Regions from separate parts of the Homo sapiens genome. Here all the other regions are linked to region 1. The links come from fine-mapping of genetic effects on gene expression. A gene starts in region 1. Each other region holds a variant in brackets. All regions are shown on one strand. Distances are from middle to middle.

Region 1 (7,763 bases):
AAACTCTAAGCATCTGGGCAACATCAGGCCAGGGGGACTGGGCTGTCACCACTGCAGCTCCTCCAGGGCAAGCAGCAGACAGGACATGAGGATCAGGCCCCCGGACCAGCCCAGGAGAGGTCAGGCTCACGAGACGATCAGGCCTTGAGTCCAGCCCAGGAGAAGATCCGGCCACGGGGCCAGGAGAGGATCGAAGCTTTGTGATATCAGACAGCCCAGAACCCTAGATCCCTTGGCACTTAGGTGAAGAATTTCTTAAAGAATCAATCAAATGAAGACAAATTAAAGAACAAAGTAAACATTCTTGGATATTATGGGAGAAACAGCCCTATTTGAAGGTGGTATTCTAAGGAGAGAAATCAATCTAATGAAGGAAAGAAACTTGGAAGGACTTAGAGAAAGATGCCTCTGGACTCACACAAAACCTCCTAAGAGAAGACAGTTCCTGCTTACTCTAAGTCCAGAAGCAAGAACACACACTAAGGCAGGGGACAAAGACTGAAGAGGAACTTCCAGATCCCACAACGGGTCAGAGGCCTAAAGACCAACGGGAAACTAGCAGAGCACAGATGGCAGCTGACATCCAAAATGAGAAAGGACTATCGCTTACAAGAGACTTACAACGTGGCTACTCATTGTTTTGTTTTCATTTTTGTTTTTGTTTTTGAAGGGACAAGAAGGGAAATAAGCAATCAGTTTTCCTGATTTTTACAAAAAGGCATATAAGAAACGATAACCTATGCTTGCTTGTGGAAAGATTCTGAGATCACGGAATGAAAACCTGGGAATATGTCTTGGTCCTTCAGCCTGCTATAACAAAACACCTTGGACTGGGTAATTAATAAACAGCAGAAATGTATTGCTCACAGTTCTGGAGGCTGGGAAGCCCACGATCAAGGTGCTGGCAGATTTGGTATCTGGTAAGGACTGGTTGTCTCCTTCTCTGTGTCCTCACATGGTAGAAGGGGCCAACAAGCTCCTTTGGGCCTCTCTTGTAAGAGCACTAATCCCATTCATGCAGGCTCCACTCTCATGCCCTCATGACCCAATCACCTGCCAAAGGCCTCATCTCTTAATTCCATCATCTGGGGGTTAGGTTTCAACATATGAATTTTGTGGGGACGCAAACATTCAGACCACAGCAAAAGGGCAGTGGTAACACAGAAGCAGCCCAACTTTGAAACTGGCCTTCATCTGGTAAAAGTCAGTTCTTTTAATTACTCAACATGGGAATCTAGACTTATTCAGCCTCCCTGGGCCTGCCCTTGCTCAGGTGTTCAATGGCATTAACCAGGCCCAACAGTGGGTGTGGCGTGTCCACAGCTCTCAGGACTGTCCCTGCTCCTTCCTTGCCTTCTCAGCTGGGGAAAACTGATGCTGGTATCGCTAGCTGACGACCCCAGGGTGTCTGTGTCTGTTCTCACCATATTTCCAGCTCTGGTCCAAGCCTGTATCTTGCTCCTCTGTTTTTGGCAATTTCAATACCTGTAAGTACAGAGAGAAAAAGAAAATGGAGCAATTTCAGCACCTATACACTCAAAGACAGATGAAACAACCTGCTGCAGTAGGTAGGATAAAAAAAAAAACAAACAACAAACAAAAATGCTCTGTGCCTTCCCAGACGGGATGCAGTCAGGCTTCCTGTTGACAGCATGGCAGCAGAGGGCAGCATACACCTGTATACACCTGTATACACGAGTACGCCTGCACCTGCTTATACTTGCATATACCTGCTTATATCTGCAGGAAATGAGAAACAGGGAGGGCTTGCAGGTCTGACCCTTAGCACCATGGAGGAGGCGGAGGAAGAGGAAGAAGTCAGACCCTGGTAGTTTATTAACAAGGAAATGCCCAACACCATCTAGAGGAAAAAGGACTTAGAGGATTACGATCCAGCAGTGGTGCCACTGTCAGGCACCATCGGCTTACTGGTCTTGGGCAGCAGCTTCCAACAAGCACCTAGGGAGGAGAGGCTGGCAGAGTGGAAACTTAGTTTTGGCCAAGCCTTCTTCAGTTCAACTAGATTTGCTCTGAGCAAATGAGGTGAAAGCAGGTTGATATTTAAAAAATAAAAATAAAAAACCACTGGCTGCGGTGGCTCATGCCTGGAATCCCAGCACTTTGGGAGGCCAAGGCAGGTGGATCACTTGAGGTCAGGAGTTCGAGGCCAGCATGGCCACCATGGTGAAACCTTGTCTCTACTAAAAATACAGAAATTGGCCATGCATGGTGGCAGACGCCTGTAATCCCAGCTACTCAGGAGGCTGAGGCAGGAGAATCGCTTGAGCCCAGGAGGCAGAGACTGCAGTGAGCCAAGATGACACCACTGCACTCCAGCCAGGGCAACAGAGTGACAGTCCATGTCAAATAATAATAATCATAATAATAATCCAGGGCACATACTGATTAGATGCCATCTCTTGAAACATTCTGTTTCTATTGTTCCTGGCAAAGGCTCTTGCAGTCAGCAGACCAGTGCAAGACAAGCTGCAACCTGACTACACCTGCAGGCTTGCCCATTTAGGTGCAGGTGTAATAGTTTAACTTTTCATCCTCCACGGTGCGTCCATATGAACGAAAATTAGATGGTGACCTTTCAACAACCACACCCTATCTTCGAGGCCACCACGCCCGGCTGATTTTTGTATTTTTAGTAGAGACGGTGTTTCACCATGATGGCCAGGCTGGTCTTGAACTCCTGACCTCAGGTGACTTCCACCCCCTCCGGCCCCCCCAAAATGCTGGGATGACAGGCGTCTTTTTCTACTTCCCTTTCTGGGACGCCTTCTCCCACCAGGAAGGCCCACGGGGACCAGAGACCATCAATCTCTGGCCTCTGCACACCATCCCCGCCAGTGCGCAGCCATTCTGTTCAACTTAGATATCTCCGAGAATGGGCAGCTCAGTCCCAACCACGGGACCCCAGAGATATCAGAACACGGGTCCATCCCCAGGCCTCCCGCCTAAGCCGCCAGACTTTTCTTAACCGTGCCTTGTATATCGCTCGTCCCCGGGAACTATAAACACTCACTTCCCGACGAGGACCTGAGCACGTACCACTGGCGGGGTCATTGCCCATTATCTCACCTGATCCCATGCCCAGGGCCGAGAGTTTCCCAGGGCAAGGCTGTGAGCACGCCACGGGCAAGCCTGGGCCCAGCCACGGTGCCCGTGCGCCACCCCAAACCGGTGCCCCCGCCGCCCCAGACTCACTCTTTAAAATTCTTTGCAAATTGCCCTCGAAGTCCAGGGCCCACTGGTTGAGTGCGCAGGTGGCCACGGTCACCTTCCGGCCCATCCTGGCCGCAGTCGCTTGGGCAGGAGGCCAGCGGGGGACAGCAAGACCAGGGTCCCAGCGAGGTAGGCGGCTGGGACGCCGGACCTTCCGGGTTGCCCGGCCCCGCCCCCTCCCCGCCCATCCGTTGAGGCTCCGGCCAAGGAGGACTGCGGCGTCAGGCCCTGCCTACGGATCGCCCCGCCCCGTCTGAGGAGCTCACGACCGCGCCTGCGCAGCGAGGTGGCCTCAGCGTTCACGGCACCGCGAAGGGCCCCGCCCCCGCCCCGGCTCCACCCACGTCCCAGGCCCCGGCCCCGGCCCGGCCCTTGCGGGCAAACCCGTTCAGGTGCACAGGTGCAGGGGGCTCACCGCCCAGCTGCAGCACCCCTCTATTTTATCCCACACCGCCACCCCACATCCAGCTTAGCCATGTTTTATTTTAATACGGCATGAAACGTTCCAAATACACCAAAAGTGGAGAGTACGGTAGGAGCGCTCCATCGTGCCCGCGGGACAGCAGACGATAGCAATCGATTCTCCGTGCTGGGAATCCCGCCACCCTGGGCGGATGGCGCTGAATTCTTGGGAACCCTCTCCTGCCCCTTTCACTCCTGTACCACGTGTGTAAGTAGCTCAGGTAGCGCACTGTTTGCCTTTTCTGAAACTACAGGAACTGCACTTGAATGTGCTTCTGCAACTTGATTTTTTCCCCTGTAATATGAGATACGTTCTTTTAATTATTTTTCTGCAGTTTGGTATTCCATAGTGGCAGTAAAGCAGGTTTATTCAATAGCGGATGGGCATTGACGTTATTAGCAGCGTTTTGCCAACAGACGCACGCACACAGGCACTGCTGCAATTTCCTTTCCGGCAAGGTTTCCTTCGTGACCTCGTTCCGCCAGTTCCTGCAGCAGCTTTGCAGAGTAGTAGGGTTCGTGCTGTTTGACTTTACTAAATATTGCCAAGTCTCTTCTCCAGGGCGCTTGCACCGATTCACTACCAGCGGTTTCTCACTTTTTATTTTTTCACATTTCCTCTTTAGTCCACCCACGGTAGAATCCATTTTTCCCCCATATAAATAACTGCCTCATCATCGTTGCTTGAAGAGGCCATCCTTCCTTCTGTCATTCATGTTAGTTTAAAAACACACAATTCACAAATTTGGAAAAAGAGAAGGCTTTATTTCTTGTAAACGGTCGTAGCCTGCAAGGTGGCGGCCATCTGTCTGAGGCTGGGAATCTGTCTCCAGCCAAGGCCAGAGACAGGCACGTCCAAGGAGGAGGGGTTGGGGCAGGAGCGCTATGCTGAAGGGATTGGCTAAACATACATATTCAACAGGTAACAGGAGGAGCTATGAATATTCATGAAGGTGGTCCTGACACATGCCCTCTTATTGAGCAAAGCATGTAATATATGACCCATGTTCACTTTGGGGTGGAGACTTAACATTTACACATCTTACAATTAGGGCCTTTATGGCAAAACGTCTTTTCAGGACACAAAGGCATGCAGGTGCATCATCTCTCTCTATTAACGGGTCAGCTGGTCGGCATGGTCAGCTGGTCGGTGGTCTCTTATTAGGAGAAAGTCACTGAAATCAGTCTCTTGTCCAATCACAGCTGCTATGGCTGGTGAAACAGAGTCAGTTAGTTGGCACCTAGTGGAGCTGCAATTGTTTTAATATTCCCTATCCCAAGGCTAGTGTGTGTTTGGCTAATAGAGAAACAGAAAGCCTTGTGGCTCTTAGAATATAGTTTATTCTCTAAGTGTGGGTTGCCTGACTTACCCTCGCCTAGCATGGCTTTGGGTCCTGTTTATAATTTGGTATCTTATTGCCACAGAGTCCGTTCTGTCAGTCTTACGATCTCTGTTTTAACATGAATGCCGGCCAGTTGTGGTGTCCAAACTCTGAAACAGGGGGCTATTACCAGGCGCATCTGACCTCCCATCCCATCATGTCTGGGAATTCAGTGTTGAGGTTTTTCTGGTGTCCCCTTGGTCAGGAGAAGGTCCCTTTGGTCAATGGGGGGCTTAGGATTTTATTTTTACCTTATGTACATATACCCGTTTTCACATTTTGAATCACTTTTTTTCCTGTCTATAAAGTAGTGCTTGTTCATGACAATTTGGAAACTCCACAAAAGCACCAGAATGTTATACATGCTAACTTATTTAATCCTCACAGTAGTTTTCATGCTTCTGAAATCCACACGATCTGCTCAAATTATCTCCTGCCAACAATGGCTGATGCCAGGCCTGGGCAGAGAAGGGGAGGATCCTTGAACATCTGGTTGTCCCAGAAAATAAGTAAGTACTCAAAGGATGGTAGATACATGTCATATGAAAAAAGAAGCCAATTTGAAGGGGCTCCCGTTAGCTAAATACAGGACAATACAGTAAGGATCATAACTCGGTCAGCTAAATCCATTAGGGCATACTGATAAAAAATAAATCAAAGAGGAAATCCCTACAGAAGAATGCTTGCTAATAAATAATTTATTAATAAATGTTGAGGGAATGATAAAATTAGAAAATTAACACTTTGTCCCAAGAAATAAGGGATTCAGGCAAGATTCCTCATTAAATGCTAGTTCACTGGGTGAAAGGTCATTTGGGAACAGCATATTTACAGTCTCAAAGTATCACTGCACCAATTACTCATTAATAACAAAAGGAAAAATGGAGACTTCTGGCAGAAACCACGGAGCCCCACTATCAATCATGGAGCACAGTGATATGTTGTCTTAAAAAAGAAAATTTTAGGACTCTTGAAATTTATTAGGTCAACTTGGGCAACAGAGCAAGATCCTGTCTTTAAATAAATAAATAAAAATAAATAAATTTATTATGTCAAGAGGGAAGTTAAGTCCTAGAAACTGGGTCACATAGCATGTTTGTAATTTTGTCTTTTAGATTATAGGCTGTTTTTCTTTATCATTCATGTTTTATAAATGACTAGGAGAGACCACAGACCAGGCCTGCTCCCCTTTTAATTACTGATCTTTATTATAGATTGTCTCTTATTATCCCGTACTTAGACCAGACTCCTACATCTTCAGTGTAAAATGTTAAATATACCTTCCACCTAAAAAAGACCACCTCAGCTGGTCAGATTATAACTTTATGCATAAAAAGATGTTAAAATTCTGTTAAACTTCCCTAAAATTTGTCTACATAAATGATCCCAAACATCTACAGTTCAAAATACTGATTTCCATTCTTTAAAATCTGTGCTTCCCAGGCAGCCTGTCCTCAAACTTTATACACTTAAATAAACTCTCTTTAAGCTAAATTCTGACCTGTTTGGTTATTTCAGGTTGACAGCCTTCTAACAAGATAAAACATGCTCTATGTAGTATATTATCCTGCCAAAAAAAGTGCATAGCCTGAATGCACAGTGTGGCTCCCTGATTAGATCCTGGGGTTTAAAAAAGGGCTGTAGGGCAGAGCTTCACACCTGTAGTCCCAGCACTGTAGGAGGCCACAGTGGGTGGATCGCTTGAGCCCAGGAGTTCGAGACCAGCTTGGGGAACATAGTGAGACCCCCCCCCCCACCCATCTCTACCAAAAAAAAAATAGCGTGTGGTGGTGTGCTCTTGTAGTCCCAGCTACTCAGGAGGGTGAGGGAAGAGAATCGCTTGAGCCCAGCAGTTCAAGGCTGCAGTGAGCTGTGATCGTGCCACTACACTCCAGCCTGTGTGACAGAGACCCCCGTCTTAACAAAGCAAAACAAAACAACAATAACAAAAGGGCTGTAAAGGGCATTATTGGGACAACCGCGGGAAACTGGAGATGGAAAATAGATAACAGCATTGAACTGATGTGGTCATTGTATTTTGGTAATATAGGAGGTTCTTGTTCTTAAGGAGTTGGATACCGAAGTATTTGGGAGGGGGGTATCACGGTATCTGCAGCTAATGGTGGGGGCTGAGTGGGGAGGAAAAAAGAAAAATACACATATATAAACACAGAGGGAGAGAAATGAAACGTGGCCAGCTGCTCACCCCTGCTGAACCTAGGAATCTGCGTGCTCACTTTACGTTCAACTTGTTTGTATGCTGAACATTTTTCAAAACAAAAAGGTGCAGGGAAAAAAGAAAACATGATGTCTCTCTGAGGGCCACAGAGACGTGGCAACCAGATCGCTCTGACAGTAAGGCCTGTTACCCGAGCTGTTGGGTGTGGGGTCAGCAGACACCTTCAGCTGCCCCCTCCTCCAGGGCTGCCTCGCCCCAGGTCATGCCCTCGCAACGTGGCCCGTGCGTCCGGCTCGCACTGTGGCTCAGCTTCTCCCTTTGCCCAGTCCTGCTGCTCCCTCCCCTCCCGTCCTCGCACAGGTGTGCCCCCCTAATAAGCAGGCCACCCAGACTCCATCTCGGGTCACTTTGGCGGTCTCCCAGCGGCGAGCCTTCCCTGACACCCATGTGTTTACCTGATCGTTTATGGAGGATCCTCTTCGCCCCGGGACGTGAGCCCTAGGACCAAG
Region 2 (7,763 bases), 74 kb before region 1:
CTGGGACTCAGTCGGAAGCAGCAGCCACTGCTTGGAACGTTAGTGGTCATGGTGGGGGAAGAAAGAGAGAATGCAGAAAACTGCAGCAGGTGCTTCAAACTTCTTCCCACTGACGCAAGCAAATCACATGGCCACACCTGACTTAGAGAGGGCTCATGAAAGGGCCACCCTATTACCTGCCATCCAACCTGTTCCCAGAAGGAGAGGAGAACCAGGATGCCTACAAATAGCCCTAATTATCACCCCATTCTGTGCTCTGCGTGGCAATGCTGCCAGTCCTATAGATAGGTTTTTGGCTAAATGAGCTTAAGTTTTTCATTTTTACTCTAACATATGCATTTAAGGCTATAAATTTTCCACTGATTTGGCTGCATGCAGTAAATTTGATAGCCCCATTATTTCATTAGGGGTTACAAAATGATGAGTTTCTAATTCTATGATTTCTTCTTTATTTATAAACTGGAATACTTCCTCTAATTTTGTTACCATAAGATAGAGTTTGTCTGTCAGAGATAGAATAAGTGCCTGATTATTTTCCTTTACTTAGTCATCTTTAAAATAATGAACTGATTCCTAGAATCCTCTAAAGGCAACTAAGTTTTACAGTTTGCATAGGATCTGTATTATTATTTTTTGTGTATGATTACTCACTCCTAGTTTAAACATATTTGATGTGTATCAGTCCATTTAAGAAATTGGTGTTCAGGTTGTCCCAAGTCTGTCTACAGAGAGTTTCTCTAGGTTTGCCTCTCACCATTTTTTTTTTCTTTTTTCTGAGACAGAGTTTTGTTCTTGCTGCTCAGGCGGGAGTGCAATGGCGCCACCTCAGCTCACTGCAATCTTTGCCTCCCAGGTTCAAAGGGTTCTCCTGCCTCAGCCTCCCATGTAGCTGGGATTACAGGCATGCACCACCACACCCAGCTAATTTTTTGTATTTAGTAGAGACAGGGTTTCACCATGTTGGTCAGGCTGGTCTCGAACTCCTGACCTCAAGTGATCCACTCGCCTCAGCAGCCATGCACCACCACACCTGGCTAATTTTTTGTATTTAGTAGAGACAGGGTTTCACCATGTTGGTCAGGTTGGTCTCGAACTCCTGACCTCAAGTGATCCACTCGCCTCAGCCTCCCAAAATGCTGGGATTACAGGCATGAGCCACCTTGCCCGGCTGACTCTTTAGTTCTTTTGATGTGACTGCATTAGTCTTAGTTATCATCTCTGCTTTCTGGGATAACAAGATGTTCTAGATTTGTCTTGTTCGCTTCCAGCCCATTCACCAGAGAAGCCAGGTTCCAGGTAGATACAATAAATAGCATTTGAAGATAACAAACAGTCTTGGTGCTAGGAGTGTTCACTGCTACAGGATGGCTCATTATTTCTAAGTCTTCCAATGGAGGAGGAAACTATTTTTATTTGGATAAAAAACATCATGATTTCATATCGATATATCTAATTCAAATTCAGGATGACAAGGTTTTTACTTAACCTCATCAGTTCCACACCAAAAATTCTAGTTCTGATACCAACCTAATTATGCATTTGCTTTTTCCATACAGCATTCACAGCAGAATAACGACACCACTGCTGCCACCATGACTACTAAAAATAGCTTAGGAATTTTATTTTTGTGTTCTTTCTATGCTTAGGACATATCCCACCAATAAATTGCTGTGTTTCCAAATAACTTGAAATAATTCAACTCTATTAATATTGCCTTTTTTTTTTTTTGACGGAGTCTTGCTCTGTCGCCCAGAATGGAGTGCAGTGGCGCGACCTCGACTCATCACAACCTCCCCCTCCCAGGTTGAAGCCATTCTCCTCCCTCAGCCTCCGAAGTAGCCAGGATTACAGACACGTGCCACCACACTCAGCTAATTTTTATATTTTTAGTAGAGACAGGGTTTCACCATGTTGGCCAGTCAGGTCGCAAACTCCTAACCTCAAGTGATCCGCCTGCCTCGGCCTCCCAAAGTGCTGGGATTATAGGCGTGAGCCACTACGCCCGGCCCTTTCAAAATTCTTAAAAAGCAATATTGGCTTGGTGCTAGGAGTGTTTATTTACAGAGGCAACAGGCTGTGTAACAACAAAGACAATCAGAGTAAGTTGGTTACAAAAACTTCCCAAAGGAAGATGGCAGAGGCCTGGACCAGGGAAAGGAGGCAAGTCTGAACTCCCCAGAGTTTTCAGCAGCCTCTTCTGCTTCTGTGGCCCTGGCCTGAGGAACAGTCCTGTCTCCATCAGATCAATAGCTGGAAAGACCTAGGAAGAGAGGGGTTCTGAGAAAAGAGGGGTCAGCCAGGAAGGAGATGAGAGGCAGAGGAGACAGCCAGCCCCATCCTAGCACCTTCCAGCAACATCAGCATCAGACCCACGCAGTCCGAAACACAACAAGAACAAGAAAACAATAGCCATAGCCATAGTAATGACCCCGAACAACAGAGAAATCAGCAAGATATGTGTTTCAGTTTGTCGGCATGGTATTTTTATTAGTTTGCAACTTTTCATTTAAGATAAAGCAGAGTGTTGGACAGGCAAAGCCACTCCAAGGAAGCCTCTTAAACGCCCACCTTGTTGCAGGTGGGACACTCATGCCCAGCTGCTCCAGCTGGAAAAGACAGGACTTCAAGTGGGTTCAGGAGCTCAGGCCTCTGAATACACAAGCAAAGGCAAGGCTAGCGGGTGAGGGGTGATTCAGCCGCAGTTGCAGTTGACTTGGGAAGAGAATTTGTTAGGAGGGAATGGACATTAATTAGGGTGGACTCTCCTTAGGAAAAGGCAGGCAGATATGGCTTCATCTTATAGTGAGGAATGGACCCTGAGCAGTGGTTTGGGGCTCAACGATGAAGGACAGGTCACAGCTTCGGAAAATGGGGTTAGCAGGACTCACATGAGACCTGAGTCCAGAGCCTCAGATCTTACACTGGCAGCACACGGGGACACAGCAGCTAGACTGGGAGCAGCAGGGATTGCAGCAACTGGACTGGCAGCAGGATGACCCACAGCCTGAGGAACAGCAGCAGGGCTTACAGCAGCTGGACTGGCAGCAGCAGGGCTTACAGCAGCTGGACTGGCAGCAGGATGACCCACAGCCTGAGGAGCAGCAGCAGGGCTTATAGCAGCTGCACTGGGAGCAGCCACAAGAACCACAGCCCCCCTTAGAACCCCCACAAGAGCCACAGCCCCCCTTGGAGCCCCCACAGGAGCCACAGCCTCCCTTGGAGCCCCCACAGGAGCCACAGCTGGAGCAGGAACAGGCTGGCACACAGCAGCACACGGGCTTGCAGCAGCAGACGGGCACACAGCAGCTGGAGCCACATCCCCCACAGCCAGAGCCACAGCCCCCACAGCCGGAGCCACAGCCCCCACAGCCGGAGCCACAGCCTTCGGAACAGCCACAGCAGCCCATGGTTCTGGTGGATTGAGGGTGGAGCAGGTAGAGGAGCAGGTGAGAGGGAGGTGCAGGTGTGGAGCCCCCTGAGCCCGGGCTCTTTATATACCTGTCCAGAGGTCAGGCACAATACAGGGTCGCTTCCTTGTGACTGTTTACGCTATTTTTCCAGAGCTCTATTTTTTTTCCTCTTTGCTAGTGACTTCCTCCTGGCTCAGTTGAGCATCTACTT[T/C]CTTTGTTTACTAAATTTGTCTTTTTCCCTATTTGTTTTGGCCCCTACAATTGAAACCTCAGCTCCAGGCTGTCTGGTGCTTCCCGCAAAGCTCCAGGGTGCTGGTCACCTGCTCTCTGCTGACCACATGTGACCAATGGGCAACAGCCTTTGCCCACGTGCTCTCATCTTTCCTGTGTTGACTCCCCCAGGAATATTAATTTCACATTTTTAGATTTCAAAATTATCCATGGTCTTTATATTTTACTCATGCCATTCTCAGTTTTGCATTGCTCTAAAGAAATACTTGAAGCTGGGTAATTTATAAAGGAAAGGTTAGAATGGCTCATGGTTCTGCAGGCTGCACAAGCATGGCACCCACCTCTGCTCAGCTTCTGGGCAGGCCCTCAGGGAGCTTTTCCTCATGGTGGAAGGTGAAGCAGGAGCAGGCTCACCACATCGTGAGAGTGGGAGCAAGGGGTGAGGAGGGGCCACACACTTGCGAACAACCAGATCTGAGTGAACACACTCATCACCAAGGAGATGGCGCTAAGCCAGTCATGAGGGATCCGCCCCCATGACCTAAACACCTCCTTGCAGGCCCCTCCTTCAACACTGGGGATTACATTTCGACAAGAGATTTGGAGGGGACATCCCAACTGTATCATTATCCCCTTGACCCCTCAAATCTCATGTCCTTACATTGCAGAATAGAATCATCTCTTCCCAACAGTCCTCTCAATGTCTTGACTCATTCCAACATCAAGTCCAAAGTCCCAAGTCCAAGTCCCTTCCACCAATGAACTTGTGAAAATCAAAACACATTATTTACTTTGAAGATACATGAGGGTGGAGGCATTGGGTAAACATTCCCATTCCAAAAGGGAGAAATCAGCCCAAAGGAAGGGGCTACAGACCCCATGCATGTCTGAAATCCAGCAGGGCAGCCATTAAATCTTAAAGCTCCAAAATAATGTCCTTGGACTCCCAGTCCCACATCCAGGGTACACTGGAGTGAGGGGTGGGCTCCTAAGGCCTTGGGGAACTCCACCCTTGTGGCTTTGCAAGGTTCGCACCCTGCAGCTGCTCTCATGGGTTGGAGTTGTGTGCCTGCAGCTTCTCCATGCTCAAGATGTAAGCTGCCAGTGGCTCTACCATTCTGGGGCCTGGAGGATGGTGTCCTCCTCCCCACAGCTCAATTAAGCAATGCCCCAGTGGGGACTCTGTGTGGGCCTCCTACTCCACATTTCCCCTCTACACTGCCCTAGTATATATCCTCTGTGCGGGCTCTGCCCCTGCAGCAGGCTTCTGCCTGAGTGCCCAGGCTTTCTCATAAATCCTCTGCAATCTAGGTAGAGGATCCCAAGCCTCCTTCACTCTTGTATTCTACGCACCTACAGGCTTAACACCACATGGGAGCTACCAAGGCTTATGGCTTGCACCCTCTGAAGCCAGAGTTACATTTGGGGTCTTTTGAGCTGAGGCTGGAGCTGGAGTAGCCTATGTGTGGGGAGCAGTGCTCCAAGGCTATGCAGGGCAGTGAGGGCCTGGGGTGAGCCCCTGAAACCATGGTGTCCTCCTAGACCTCTAGGTCAGTGATGAGAGGGGCTGTCTCAAACACTTTTGAAATGCATTTGAAGTCTTTTCCAATTGTGTTGGCTATTAGCACTTGGGTTTTTTTGTTTGTTTTTTGAGTCATGCTAATATCTCTAGCAGGTGGTTGCTCTATAGCCTGCTTGGATTCCTCTCCTGATAATGCTTTTTCATTCTCTGCCACATGGCCATGCTGCAAAGTTTCCAAACTTTTACACTTTGATTCCCTTTTAAATATAAATTCCAACTTTAATTCATTTATGTGCTCTTGCATGTGAGAATACGATGTTAGATTCAGTCAGGCCACAGCTTGAATGTTTGCTGCTTAGAAATTTCTTCCACTAGATATCCTAAGTCATCACTCCTAAGTAGAAATTTTCAGAGCCCCCTAGGGCATGAAGCACAATATGGTCAAGCTCTCTGCCAAGGTGTAACACAAGTGATCTTTGTTTTAGTTTTCAGTAAGTTCCTCATTTCCATCTGAGACCTCATCAGGCTGGACTTCATTGTTCTTATCACTTTAATTATTTTGGACACAACCATTTAACCAGTCTCAAAGGAGTTCCCACCTTTTCCTCATCTTTCTGTCTTCTTCTGAGCCCTCCAAAAATCTTCCAATCTCTGGCCATTACCCAGTTCCAAAGTCACCTCCACATTTTCAGGTGACTTTATAGCAACATACCATTCCTGGTACAGTTTTCTGTATTTTTTGTGTTGCCATAAAGAAATATCTGAGGCTGGGTAATTTATAAATAAAAAAGGTTTAATTGGCTCCTGGTTCTGCTAGTTGTACAAGCATGGCACCGACATCTGCTCAGCTTCTGGTGAGGCCCTCAGGGAGCTTTTATTCATGGTAGAAGGCAAAGCAGGAGCAGGCATGCCACATGGTGACAGCTGAGAAAGAGAGAGCTGGTGGAGGGACAGAGGCCACACATTTTTTTTTTGAGATGGAGTTTTGCTCTTGTTACTCAGGCTGGAGTACAATGGCATGATCTCGGCTCACCGCAACCTCCGCTTCCCAGGTTCAAGTGATTCTCCTGCCTCAGCCTCCCGAATAGCTGGGAGTACAGGCATGCACCACCACACCTGGCTAATTTTGTATTTTTAGTAGAGACAGGGTTTCTCCCTGTTGGTCAGGCTGGTCTCGAACTCCTGACCTCAGGTGATCTGCCCACCTCAGCCTCCCAAAGTGTTGAGATGACATGCATGAGCCACCATGCCTGGTCAGTGCCACATATTTTTAAACAACCAGATCTTGCTCGAACTTATTCATCACCAAGGAGATGGTGCTAAACCATTCATGAAAAATCTACACCCATGATCCAAACACCTCCCAGCAGGCCCCACCAACATAAGATTTGGAGGAAGCATGCAAACTATATTACTGGGGATCACTTTTTTTTTTTTAGATGAAGTCTTCCTCTGTCACCTGGGCTGGATTGCAGTGACGTGACCACAGCTTACTGCACCTTCAAACTTCTGGGCTTAAGGAATCTTCCCGCCTTGGCCTCCTAGGTAGCTGGGAATATAGGCATGTATCACCATACCCAGCTAACTTTTAAACTTTTTGTAGAGATGGGGCCTTGCCATGTTGCTCTGGCTGGTCTCAAACTCCTGGCCTCCAGTGATCCTCCTACCTTGGCCTCCCAAAGTGCTGGGATTGCAGGTGTGAGCCACTGCACCCAGACAATATCCTTTCCTTTCCTATCCAAATAAGAATAATCTATCCTCATCTTGTTGTTTGTGGGGAATCTTTTCCCCTACTCAATTATTTCTGAAAATCTCACAAGTCTCTCTGCTGTTGTTTTCTCTCTTCCCCAGGCAGAGTGTTCACTCCTCTTAGGCTGCTTACTTCAGCTGCTCAGCTGGGTTCCCTGCTCAGTTGTACTCCATGTGGGGAGAGAGGTTCCTTTATGCCATGGTCTGCATGTGTCCCCCAAAATTCATGTATTAGAAACTTCATCCCCAATGCAAGAGTGTTGGGAGGTGGGGCCTAACAAAAGGTACTTGGAATGAATTAGTGCTGCTCCAAGAAGGACTTGAGAGAGGGCATTCACCCCTTTCTGTTCTTCTGCCATGTGAGGACAACATATTCATGCTCTCTTGCCCTTCTGCCTTCCAATATGTGAAGACACAGTAAGAAGGCCCACACCAGATATCAGCACCTTGATCTTGGACTTCCCAGCCTTCAGGACTCTGAGAAAGTACATTTCTGTTCTTTATCAATTACCCAGGTCAATTATTATCTTATAGCAGCAATAATGGACTGAGGCACTCTAGTCACAAAACCATTGCTTATATGAGGCTACTTTCTTTGTTTAAGGGATGCATGCTAAACCCTGAGGAGAGCATAAGAGGGGCACATTACTGAAAAGAAACTGAAGTCTGCTTACCAGATGTCCCTGCTCCTCAAATCTCTTGGCCGTGCGATTGGGCATTGTTTCACCAGTGTACTCACCTAAGAACACAGCAGCATGTCACCAATGTACTCGCCCAAGAATACAGCAGCATGTCCTCAGCATTCTCACCCAAGAATACAGCAACATGTCACCAGCGTACTCGCCCAAGAA
Region 3 (6,672 bases), 54 kb before region 1:
TCAGCAAATCAATGTCAGTTCCTTTGGATATATACCCAGAAGTGGAATTGCCAGATAATATGGTAATTCTATTTTTAGTTTTTGAGGAACCCCCATACTATTTTTTTAACAGCTGTACTAATTTACATTCCCATTAACAGTGTACAAGTGTTCCCTTTTTATCTACATCTTCATCAACACTTGTTATCTTTTGTCTTTTTGATAACAGTGATTCCAACAGGTGTGAGGTTATATCTCATTGTGGCTTTAATTTGCATTTTCCTGATTCTTAGAGATGTTGAGCATTTTTCATATATCTGTTGGCTATTCATATCTCTTCATTTGAGAACTGTTCAGATCCTTTGCTCATTTTTAATTGAATTGTTTTCTTGCTGTTAAGTTGGTTGAATTCCTTATATATTTTTGATATTCACACCTAATCAGATGTAAGGTTGAGAAATGATTGATGTTTGTGTGTCGATCTAAATCCTCAGACCTTGCTGAACTCACTGTTATTAGTTCTTGGGTTTTTGTTGTAGATTCCTTGAGATTTTATACATAGACTACTATGGTGTGTGCAAATATTTCTTCATTTCTCATCTGTATATCTTCTAGTTCTCTTGCCTTATTGCCCTGGCTAGAACTTCATTATGTTGAAGAGTGGTGAGAGTGGACACTTGTAATTGCTCCAAATGTTAGGGGAAAACATTCAGTTATCACCATTAAGCCTAAAATTGGCTATAGGTTTTTTGTAGATGATGAAGTGACACTCTAATCCTAGTTTGCTGAGTTTTTTAAAAATTATGAACAGGTGGTAAAAATTTCCAAATGCTTTCTTTGTGTCCCAATTGATGCAATTGTGTGAGTTTTCTTCTACAGCCTGTTAGCACAGTGGATCACATTGATTTACTTCCAAATGTGGAGCTAGTCTTACATGCTTGGAATAAACTCCACTTGGTCATGGTTTGTAATTCTTTAATATATTGCTGGATTCTATTTGCTTTCTTTTGTTGAAGATTTTGTGTCTATGTTCATGAGGGGCATTGGTTATTTCTTTTTTTGTATTGTCGTTGTCTGGTTTTGCTATCAGGGTAATACTGGCCCCTTAAAATGAATTTGGAAGGGTTCTCTTCTCCACTATTTTCCAGAGATTATGTAGAATTGGTGTTCAGTCTTTAAAAATTTGGTAATTCTCTGCATCTGAAAATTTAAAATTCCAACTTTCTTTTGGCATTTTAAAACTACACATTCAATTCCCCTAATAATTATAGAGCTATCCAAATTATCTATTTTGTCCTGGCTGAATGTTGGTAGTTTGTGCTTTTTGAGGAGTTGGTCTGCTTCACATAAGCTGTTGAATTTCTATGTGTAGAGTTGCTTGCACCGTTTGCTCATTATCCGGTTCATGTCTGTGGGGTCTGTAGTGATATCCCCAAACTTGGTATCCATTCCTGAAGCTTATAGTTTGTATCCTTGTATCCTCTCTTTTTTTTCTTTGTTGGTCTAGCAAGAGGTTTGTTAATTTTACTGATTTTTTTTAAAGAACTAGATTTTTGTCTCATTTATTTTCTCTATTTTTTGTCTCTAATTTCACTGATTTCTGTTCTTATCTGGATTTTTTTCTTCTTCTGCTTATGTTGGGTTTGATATTTTGAATATATTTTTATAGCTTTGTATGTATTATGATTTATATTACATTTTAAGTATATTTTTATAGAGTTCCTAGTGATCTTTTATTGAATACCAGATAAAGAGTATAAAAAACTGAGAAAGGTTTTGAGTGATGTTACTTTCTTGCAGAGACCATTTGTTTTCCTTCTGCGAAACAGTTAGACAAGCAGCAGATCACATTGATCCAGTGAGGCAGTAAGATAAGAGGCCAGGCTTTATTCTTTGTGAAGGAGTCTCTATTTCTGGCCTGTACTTCTCCCAGTATATAGTCTTGAGGGGTTTCAATAGAAAGCCTTAAGTTTTTACCAAGCCCTTTCTTATTAATCCTAAAATTAAATATTTATTTTCCAGAGCTACAAAACCTCCATAATCTCTGTTTTGCTTTAAAGGCTCTTCATGGATGCTTTTTGCTTAGCTCCTTGTCCTCTTTCCCCAGGCAGTTTCATAATCTTCAAGGGAAGAGGAGCTGCTGCACACTGGACTCACTTCTCTGAGCTCTTCTTTTCCCTGGAAGCTTTGCCCTGCAAGCTCTGGCTGCCTTTGTCACCCTAAAGTCTGATTTTCGGAAGGAACTGCCAATGCCTCAGCTGCTTTCTGCTTGTGCTCTTGTTCTCTCTGTCGCTAACGAATGGGCAGAGGCCCCACGGGAGGAGAGTGGAGCGCTGGCACCTGATGCATTCATTTCCCTTCTCACCAGGATCCAGGCACCTCCTGTCCTGGACACCTGGGTTTCTCTCTAGTGCTTTCAACTGCTGTTTTGTGTTAATTTTTTCTGGCTTTCCTACTTGTTCTCAGTGATTCTGTAGCTCAAATATGAGCTGTTCCATCAGAACCAGAAGAGGAGTCGCAATACGTATTTGAAAAATACACGAATAAATTATCTGCAAATTAAAAATAATCAGCTCTCCAGGAGTAGCTTCTATGGTGGGTGATGGCGACTATCTGAGGCTGGTGTCACAGGGGTAAAAGAGTTTACCAAGAAACTTGTAGGTTTTAAAAAAAGGCAGATTTATTAAAGAAAGGAAGGAAGTACATTGCAAGAAGGCAATGGGCAGGCCAGGAGAAGAGGAGCTGACTGCAAGGAGACAAAGGCTTGCAGGGGATTTTACAGGATGGTTCCTGGGCCATGTGCTGAAGAGGGCTGCATACAATACCTACAATGCCAAGGTTGCAGTGAGCTAACTTGCATTTTTCTATCAGCTGAGGGTCTGGTGATACCTGGGCATGGGAAGATTGTGAGCTATATGCACAGGAGGGCTGTGTGTGCTGGACTGTGAAGAAATGCAGACTTGTAGCTTATCTGCTTTCTCTTTTTGCTTTCCCTTGGTCCTGCCACCCTGGCTCCTTTTCCCTGATTAGGACGCCACAGCTTCCATGTGTTTTGATTTGTTAGATCTGACATGGGCCAATGAATTGTTTTTTCTTTAACTATATACAATCCTATTTTTCCCCTCATATAAGCCAATCCTAATGGAATAGAATCATCCTTTTCAAAAGCTTTTTACCAGAGGTCTCCACACCACTCCCAAGTACAGCCTCCCATGCCTCACTCAGCTACAACCTGGCAAAAATCTCCAGCCCTGCAGAGACTGAGTGGTGCATTGAGTCCCTGATTGCTGTTTTCCAGAAGGATCCTGGAGAGGATGGTTACAACTGCTCTCTCCAAGACGGAGTTCCTAAGCTTCATGAACACAGAAGAGGCTGCCGTCACAAAGAAGCAGAAGGACCGCAGTGTCCTTGACTGCATGACGAAAAGACTGGATGTCAACAGTAACAGGCAGCTAGATTTCCAAGAATTTCTTAATTCAAAATTGGCAGCCTGGCTGTGCATTGCCATGACTCCCTCCTCAAGGCTATCCCACCCTACAAGCAGACCTGAGGGCCCCTTCGGCCTGGCCTCCAAAGCCACCCCCTTTCCTTCCAGCTTCCTGTCACCATCTCCTCCTCACAGCCCACACGTCCCCTGAGCCCAGCACACCTACCTCCTCTGGCAGGCCCCGCCTGCGGGTAGAAATAAAACAGTTTTCACTCGCATC[G/A]GTGTGAAGAGACCACCAAACAGGCTTTGTGTGAGCAACAAGGCTGTTTATTTCACCTGGGTGCAGGCGGGCTGAGTCTGAAAAGAGTCAGCGAAAGGAGATAGGGGTGGGGCCGTTTTATAAGATTTGGGTAGGTAAAGGAAAATTACAGTCAAAGGGGGGTTGTTCTCTGGCAGACAGGAGTGGAGGTCACAAGGTGCTCAGTAGGGGAGCTTTTGAGCCAGGATGAGCCAGGAGAAGGAATTTCACAAGATAGTGTCATCAGTTAAGGCAGGAACAGGCCATTTTCACTTCTTTTGTGGTGGAATGTCATCAGTTAAGGCAGGAACCGGCCATCTGGATGTGTACGTGCAGGTTACAGAGGACATGATGGCTTAGCTTGGGCTCAGAGGCCTGACAACGTCACATTTTTAAAACATGAAAAAAAAAAGCTTTTTATTAACTACTCTGCTTAATTCAACTCCTTACTTCATATGTAGAGTTGATATAGCTGAATGCCTGCTGGATAAGTCAATAAAGGAAACCCTGACACTGCCACTTTGCAATGATAAAATAACTCATCAAATTGAAGATTTAACTGCAAACATAAAAACTGAGTAAACACAGTCTCTTCACATACATTTGGACAAATCTACAGACATCGCTGAACTTCTGGTATTGCTCTAGCACCAGCCCCAGCTAATTATTGGAAAAGGGTTTCTTTATAAGTGAATGGTTGGCAACAAACCAAAGTGCTGTCATCTCATAAACCGGACACTGAAAAGATTTGCAAAACAAGTACAACAATGCCACTCTTCTCACTTAGATGTTTTGTTTTTAGAAAATTTATTTTTTTGTAAAAATATGCTATTTCATGTTAACATGCAATGGGCTTATTATTTTTAGTGACTTCCTAAAATAAATCTATTTTTAGATTTCTCAGTTTTAATTTCTCAGGTAGCAACTATCAACAGATAAAAGCCACATAAGCAAATGCTCTTAGGGGTTTTGAGACCAAAGTGTTTGAGAATCACTGTCCTAGAGTTTTAAAACATTGGAAAGGGGAGGGGAATGTGTACCCCTGTCATTAACAGTATCCAGCTGAGAGGGAGGCTCGGGCTGACTGACTCGGGGTTCTATTGGAACACAGCCAGGCCTGTCCATCATGTATTGTCTGAGGCTGCTTCCTGCTGTCATGGGAGAAACTTTTGGGCGGATGCTGCTGGGAGCCGGTCAGACTGGGCAGACTGGATGAGAACAGGAGGATGAGAATGAGCAAAGGCACCCACGAGGAGAACAGGAGGAAAACCCACGCGTTTGGGGGCGACTAGAAATGCGCAGTGAGCCTTGGGGTCCCCTGTGCTGCCCTCAGGCTGCGTTTGCCTTGAGTGAAATATTTTCTCCAAAAGGCAGAGGAGAGGACAAAGCCCCCTGTGCATCTCCATTCTCCACAGCATCCCCAGGATGGCAGGAGGAGGTCCCCGAGAACTGCACAAGCTGTGTTTGACCCAAGGGGACTTTTTCCTCTTGAGGAGGTTTGCTGGGTCATGTCAGTGATGAGGTTTAAGGACAGAGCCCAGGACCCTCAGCAGCCTGGATATGGCCAGACGGAGCTGGAAGCTTCTCACTGGCCGAGCTCTGGTCCCTTCCCCAAAACTGAAGGGTCATTACCCTATCCTAATCTCAGCTCGACTCATGCCAGGAGGACTCAGTAGTAGACTGTCCTACCACTGGGGGACACACTATTGTGTAACTGAGGGACACTAGGCTGTATCTGGGTGGACACTGCCCTGTTACTAGGGGACACTAGTGAGTAACTGGGGACACTGCCCTGTACTGGGGAACACTATCCTATTATCCTGTTACTGGGGGACTCCAGCTTATAACTTGGGGACACTATAATGGGGGACATTGCCCTGCAATTGGGGGACATTATCCTGTTACTGGGGGACACTATCTAGTAACTGGGGATACTACCTTATAATGGGGGGACAATACTGTATAACTGGGAGACACTATGAGGGGACATTGCCCTGTAATTGGGGGACACAGCCCAGTAACTGGGGAGACATTGCCCTATAACTGATGGACGTCACCCTATAACTGTGGGGACTTACCCTATAACTGGGGAGACATTCACCTATAACTGGGGGACATCACCCTATAACTGGGGGGACATTCACCTGTAACTGTGGGGACATCACCCTATAACTGTGGGGACATCACCCTATAACTGTGGGGACATCACCCTATAACTGGGGGACATTACCCTGTAACTGGGAGACATTACCTCATAACTGGGGACACTATAATGGGGGAACATTGCCTTATAACTGGGGACACTACCCTGTAACTTGGGGATACACTATGCTATGACTGGGGGGACACTGCCCTGTAACTGACGGGATGCTATCCTGTAACCAGAAGATACTAACCTATGACTGAGGGACAGTATCCTGTAACTGGGGACACTGCCCTGTAACTGGGGGACACCACCCTATAACTTGAAGGTTGGGGACCAGGGTCTGGTGCCCCTGAGCTCAGTTCCTGCAGGTGGGAAGTTTTGGAGCCTCCGAGGGTAATTCCACAGGATGGGGCTGCCTTCAGGGTCCCAGCCTCACCTGATCATCTTTCGGGTGACACACTCCCCACCCCGTTGCCACACATCTGGGGTGCAGGAGGCAGCCAGAAGCCTCCAGCTCCCATCCAAGGCCTAAGGAGAATCTCAGGTATCCTGCTGGGTGCTCCCTGAGAAGGTGTGGGGTGCCGGCCACCCCAGTGCACTCAGACCTATCCGGGCAGGGGGCATCCACGATGTGACGTGGGTAACAGACTCTGGAGGAAGTGACGGAGAAGACAACAACGGTGGTGACCACTCCGCCTGACAGCACCTGCCGAGTGCCCCCCACTCTCTACTATCCCGACAGCACCTGCCGGGTGCCCCCCACTTTCTGCTATCCCGACAGCACCTGCTGAGTGCCCCCTACTTTCTACTATCCCAACAGCA

What was found. PIP is the estimated chance that this variant, and not a neighbour inherited with it, causes the effect.
Region 2: its variant is the best candidate, but not a certain one, in a credible set for the expression of NADSYN1 in whole blood (TOPMed, PIP 0.56).
Region 3: its variant is the best candidate, but not a certain one, in a credible set for the expression of NADSYN1 in thyroid (GTEx, PIP 0.86).

What each region holds. Positions count from the first base shown.
Region 1 is chr11:71,448,832-71,456,594 of GRCh38, reverse strand. It overlaps NADSYN1 (NAD synthetase 1), which reads right to left and starts at 3,392. Exons shown (of 21, transcript NM_018161.5): 1 at 3,214-3,392; 2 at 1,425-1,485. The coding sequence starts at 3,298. DHCR7-DT (DHCR7 divergent transcript) reads right to left here. Exons shown (of 2, transcript NR_186309.1): 1 at 7,710-7,763; 2 at 4,438-4,905. It also overlaps a transcript of DHCR7 not described here. RefSeq lists enhancers at 2,235-2,734, 2,735-3,236, 4,474-4,553, 4,674-4,723, 7,669-7,763 and a silencer at 3,294-3,663.
Region 2 is chr11:71,522,945-71,530,707 of GRCh38, reverse strand. It overlaps KRTAP5-7 (keratin associated protein 5-7), which reads right to left and starts at 3,441. Exons shown (of 1, transcript NM_001012503.2): 1 at 2,039-3,441. The coding sequence starts at 3,407. The coding sequence ends at 2,910. RefSeq lists enhancers at 2,552-3,051, 3,052-3,553. The variant T/C (reference allele first, on the strand shown) is at 3,622.
Region 3 is chr11:71,502,918-71,509,589 of GRCh38, reverse strand. It overlaps the pseudogene S100A11P3. Among named protein-coding and RNA genes, the nearest start is that of KRTAP5-7, 21 kb to the left of the region's middle. RefSeq lists an enhancer at 3,629-4,219. The variant G/A (reference allele first, on the strand shown) is at 3,687.